2 separate regions of the Homo sapiens genome follow, and region 2 is linked to region 1. Evidence: fine-mapped expression QTL. A gene starts in region 1. The other region holds a variant in brackets. All regions are shown on one strand. Distances are between the middles of the regions.

Region 1 (2,909 bases):
CTTGAGCATCCATTTCAGAATCCCCTTCTTCAAATGGAGGTCCTGCTCTCATCCCTCACCCTTAGCTCCCATCTGAAGTTTGGAACAATTGCAGATTATTTTCATAAAGCTGTGGGGCCCAGCGTAGCAAGCCTCTCAGTCTCAGGTTGACAGGACTCCACCTGGATGTGGCTGGGTCTCTGCTCCAGGACATGGGGCAGGACAGAGGAGGGCTCAACCATTGAGAGCATGGGAGAGGTGAAGCGAGGCCCAGGGAGGAACTCAGGGAGAAATGCTACCTCCTGACCCCAGTGTGCCAACCTGGAGACGGCCATCGCTGACGCCGAGCAGCGGGGGGACTGTGCCCTCAAGGATGCCAGGGCCAAGCTGGATGAGCTGGAGGGCGCCCTGCAGCAGGCCAAGGAGGAGCTGGCACGGATGCTGCGCGAGTACCAAGAGCTTTTGAGCGTGAAGCTGTCCCTGGATATTGAGATCGCCACCTACCGCAAGCTGCTGGAGGGCGAGGAGTGCAGGTGGGTGGGACCGAGGGACTGGAAGAAACTGCAAGTCTCCACCTTAAAGTTTCCCAGAGTGTGGTTGGGGGCGGGGGGGAGGGGGCGGCGAGCTGGCGATGTGTTTACTTCACCCACAAGCATAGTTTCAAACAGCATCCTGCCAGATAATGTGACAGCAATTTCCTTTACAGTTCTCTTTTGACTCTTTGGAGAAAGTCTTAGCTGGGTGCTGTTGTGTCTTTAACACCTCTCAGATGGCCAGGCGCAGTGGTTCGTGCCTGTAATCCCAGCACTTTGGGAGGCTGAGGCGGGTGGATCACCTGAGGTCAGGAGTTTGAGACCAGCCTGGCCAACATTGGAGAAACCTCGTCTCTACTAAAAATACAAAAGTTAGCTGGATGTGGTGGTGCATGCCTGTAATCTTAGCTACTTGGGAGGCTGAGTCAGGAGAATCGCTTGAACCCAGGAGGCTGAGGTTGCAGTGAGCTGAGATCCTGCTACTGTCCTCCAGCTTGGGTGACAGAATGAGACTCCATCTCAAAAACAAACAAACAAACAAACAAACAAACAGACAAAACACAAAAACACCTCTCAGACACTTACAAATATCCCCTATTGATAAAGAGACAGTAGATCTCAGGTGCAGCATCTCTGGGAAAATAATAGCATTATTTAGCCCAAAAGTTTTAAATTGTTTTCTTTTCATTATATTTATTTTTACTGCTACTTTTTTTCTTATTTGGTTAGGTAATAATACTGGTTTCTATTTACCCTGGTGATAAAAAACTTCTTTTTAAAAGAAATGCACTTTTGTCGTAAAAGGCAGAGTCAATTAAAAATACTAAATATCTAACAGTACAAGTCAAACATGGTCCTAGCAACAGTCAGAAGGGTGGCACACGAAGCATGAACATTTGAAAAACCCTGTTCTAACCAAGCACCATTTTATAACTGAGACCTGGAGAGAAGTCACTTGCCCCAAAATCATACAGTTCGTTCATTAGTAGCAACTCCTGATCCTGATCTTTCCACATATGTATTTATTCAGACAGCTGCTCACAGTAGTAAAGAAATGGGTTCAAGAGAAACCCTGCAGGAGGGACCTTGGGGGTGGTAATGTTGTTGGGGGTTCCAAAGTTGCAGGTTCCACATCTCTGCAGTGGGAAGAGTAGATTGAGGAGCGAGAGGGAGGGCTTAGAGACATGCAAGGGCAGCCAGTGCCATCTGGCAAGTGTGGGGTGCGTGAAGGCTGAGCTGGTCTGGCTGGGGATCCCCAGCCTGTGTTTAGGCAGTGAGGGCCACTATGGGAGTCCACGTGATTCAGACTCTCCTGTGCTTTTCTCTCTTGCAGGATGTCCGGAGAATATACCAACTCCGTGAGCATTTGTGAGTATTTCATGACTCTGAGGGAATACTTTTAGTCCATCAACAAACACAAAGTGGGTGGGTGTCCACCGCCCAGCCCCCTGAGGAAGAGCTTGGCTCTGCCTGTTGACCACTTGGTCACATACTCACCTTCCTTGCTGAGACCTGCGGCCTCCCCATTCAGAGCTACTTCTTCCAGGTGGAGCTAGTGCCCAGGACATTCTGATACTGCACACTAGCCTCTTTCATAGCAATCTCCTGCCTGCTGTGGTGAAACTCTCAGCCCCTCCCCTCTTCTGTCACCCCCACACCGGCTCTCCTGCATGAAGGAAACTGAGCACAGAGTGGTGCCTCCTCAATGGGAGTGGAGACTGGTGTGTGGACCACTGTGCAAGCCAGTTTAATGCTGGCCCCACAGGGTTTGGCAGTCTCTTTCTTATAGTGGGACCAGCAGAAACTCCCTAATTTTAACAATCAGGAAATTCTTTTGAAAAATACTCAGAAGGTATTGTAAAGCTAAATGCAAGAACCTGCTGGCTTATCTGATGCTCAAGCATCATCTGTCCCCTGGGGAAAGCCCTTGCTACTCCTGTTTGTTCATAGAATGACAAGGTGACTGACTTGGGAGTCTTGCAGGACTGGGGCTATTCTTCCCGCGCTTGAGTTGCTCAAATGAACCCAAGTTCATGGTTGATGGGAAGTGTTTGCTTAAGAAGGAGGTATTTAAGCTAGTGGGGCTGGGAGGTTGGAGGGGGACTTAAGGCCACCTCTGTCCTGGGATATACACTGATCACTCGTCCCTCCCTCCTCTGCAGCGGTCATCAACAGCTCCATGGCCGGGATGGCAGGCACAGGGGCTGGCTTTGGATTCAGCAATGCTGGCACCTACGGCTACTGGCCCAGCTCTGTCAGCGGGGGCTACAGCATGCTGCCTGGGGGCTGTGTCACTGGCAGTGGGAACTGTAGCCCCCGTGGGGAAGCCAGGACCAGGCTGGGGAGTGCAAGTGAATTCAGGGACTCCCAGGGAAAGACCTTAGCTCTAAGCTCACC
Region 2 (2,889 bases), 66 kb after region 1:
ATCTCTGGAGTGTGCAGCGTGAGAGGCGGGGAGGGCAGGAGCCGGGGCAGTGCCAACGATTACAAAGACACCCTAGGGAAGGGTTCCAGCCTGAGTGCACCCTCCAAGAAAACCAGTCGGTAGAGAAGACTGCCCCGGGCCCCGCCTCATTCCATGACCCGGCTCTGGATCCCACACTGTACTTCCCACAGCCCACTCTCAGCTCCATCTCCACCCTGCTGGTCCTGCTCCCATACACCTGGCACTGGCCTTGGCCACCCACTTCTCCCAGCCTGTGTCTTCCTGATCCTGGGAAGGCCTGGATGACCAAGCTTGGTGAAATTCCTCCCTGTACACACCCTATTAACTCCTTGGCTGTGGTCCCCCAGCTACACCACCAGCCCAGGTCCTGGCTGCCAGCTTTCCTCCTCTGCCCGGCCTCTAGCGCAGTCGCTAACTACTCTGCTGGGCTCCCTGGGTCTCTGCCCAAGGCCCCGCACACACTGGGACCTAGCATAGTTCCTGCCTATGCCAGGAGCTGGCTCTGTGTTTAAGAAAAGGAGGACTGAAGGACAAACAACCAAGAGTGGCCCAGTCCCCACCCCCACATCTAGCTCAGTCTCAAATCTGAGTGGGACCAAGTGCAATTCAGGGCCTTTTTCTCCACTCACCTGCACCCAGAAGCAGAGAAAAGCAGGCACTGTTCACTTTTCCTTTATTCTTAATGGCCTTCCTCTGTTGCAACCTCAATAAACAGCACAATCTCATGGCTTGGTCTCTGAGTATTCAAAGTATGCACATGCACCTCAATTCACTCACATGAGCGCGCACCATGTACATTCATGAATGCATGAAGCACAAACACACACACACAAGTACATCACTGTGTATTGCCCATGCAGCCTATATGTCTGTGTTAATTTTCAGGAGGCAAATGGGGTGTGGAGCAGGGTCTGGGAGGAGGGGCAGGGAGGGAGGAAAGGAGAAGCCCAGAAAGCGTGTGCATGTACTGGCTGGAGGCTTCAGCAGATGGACATGCACAAACTGTGTCCAGTGACAGAGAAATGGTCGTGTTCCTGACCTGACCTTGCCTCTTTCTGAGACTGCACCTTTCCTCGTTGGAAGGTGGGCTTAGTGCACAGGTATTTGCATTTGTCCAGCCCTTTTCTCACCGCTCAGAGGCCTGGCCTCCTGCGGGGGTCAGCAGGTGGGAGTCCCACACTCTTGGCTTCTCAGATGGAAAGATAAGTAACAAGTCTTGGAAGTTGGGGCTGGTGTAGGGAGGAGTGAGCTGGGGTCCCACCATGGGGTGGGGGTGGGCTATGAATTTCAGTGACTGGGGGGTTGGCACTGCCCCAGACATACTCCTATCCCACCTTCCAGAACCACTATGGTGATGGCCAGTCCTGCCTTGGTAAGGGGTGTAAGGAGAGTGAACAGACAGATTCCCTAGGCCAGCTCTGTGTCTTGGGTGGGGAGGGGAGGTGTAGGAGGCTCAGGGCATTTGCAGGTGGGTGGGAAGCCAACGTCTTTGCAGTGAGTGGGCAGCGACCTAGTCTCACAGTAGCCACACTAATGAC[G/A]TCATCTGGGGGAAGGAAGAGGGTTTCAGTTTCATAAAGGAGCAGGGAGGCCTGGTATTGGGGCTGGGCTGGAGGGGGATCAGAGGATGAAGGTTTGGGGCAAGAAGACCAAGTATAATGGAAGAGGAAGACAGAGGGTCCGGAGGAAGGGACGGATGGTCTGAGTTGACATCTAGGACATTTAGAGTAGTGACTGGGGCTTAGGGCAAGGCTCAAAAGCCCCTGCCCAGGAGATGGTCAGAGCCGGAGACTCCTGGCTGTCATCAACCTGTCAGCACCGTCATCTAGCAGGTGGGTAAGTGGAATAAGACTCAACAACATGTTTGCGTCCTTGATTGATAAGATGAGGCATGTGTGTGTGTGCATGCATGTGTGTGTGTGTGTGTGTGTGTTCAGTACTGGGCACAGACATTGCCATTTCCTCAGTGAAGGCACCATGCACACCTGCTGCCTTTGCTAGCCTCCTGCCTTTGCAACAGTAGGGACCGAGGTTGGATAGCAGAAAGAACTTTCCAGTTGAGAGGCTAAAAGAAATGGCTAGATTCTCAAATGTGAAGGTGGAGGCTTCTCTAGATGATGCTGGTTTATCTCACAGATTTGAGGAGGGAGGGAAGAACTCCCTTTATGCCCCAGGGCTCACAGAGTTCTCCTGAGTGGGCAGGGTTATCCTGGGTTCTGAGTCTGTTTTCTAGAGCCACAAAACCAAGTGCTGGAGACTGGAGCCTCCTGCAGGAGACTCAGAAACCCAGCACTGGGGCCCATGGCAGGGGCCTGAGCTATCAGCTTGACAGGTTCCAGCATGAGAAGGCAGGGCTTGATGGACAATTTTGGGAGCAAGTGAGGGCTCTGAGGAAAGGAAATAATGACAATGACTAGCAGGCAAGGTGTCCACCATGTGAATCTACATGGTAATTTGGTTATGGCTGCCAAGAGTAGTAGTTCTTTAAACAGGCTGAAAAATAACCCAGGAACTTAGAAAAATATTGCTGTCTAAGTCTCTACTCCAAACCAATTAAGTAAGGCTACCAGAAGTAGGGCCTAAGCACTGACTGGTGTATTTTAAAAGTCAGCAACGGAGTTCTAATGAGCAGCCAGAACCGGGAGCCATCAGCCTAAACTGTGATTTGGGGGATGCTATGGTGGCATCCAGATACAGATGGAAAGAATGGTTTGATCGATTAGTAATGTCTGCCACGGTCACCAGTGGAGGAAGTGATAGTGCATATTTTTCTTCTGATGGGTGCCTACCTGTTGCTTTACAGTTTAAAAAGCATTTTCATGCCCATTGCCTAAGAACAGCTCTGGGAGTGAAGGACTGTTGTTACGGCCA

What was found. PIP is the estimated chance that this variant, and not a neighbour inherited with it, causes the effect.
Region 2: its variant is the best candidate, but not a certain one, in a credible set for the expression of KRT73-AS1 in whole blood (INTERVAL, PIP 0.86).

Annotation. Positions count from the first base shown.
Region 1 is chr12:52,608,218-52,611,126 of GRCh38, reverse strand. KRT73-AS1 (KRT73 antisense RNA 1) reads right to left here and starts at 1,276. Exons shown (of 3, transcript NR_126005.1): 1 at 1-1,276. It overlaps KRT73 (keratin 73), which reads left to right. Exons shown (of 9, transcript NM_175068.3): 7 at 292-512; 8 at 1,846-1,880; 9 at 2,675-2,909.
Region 2 is chr12:52,541,766-52,544,654 of GRCh38, reverse strand. It overlaps KRT71 (keratin 71), which reads left to right. Exons shown (of 9, transcript NM_033448.3): 9 at 1-746. The coding sequence ends at 123. Among named protein-coding and RNA genes, the nearest start is that of KRT71, 9.9 kb to the left of the region's middle. The variant G/A (reference allele first, on the strand shown) is at 1,560.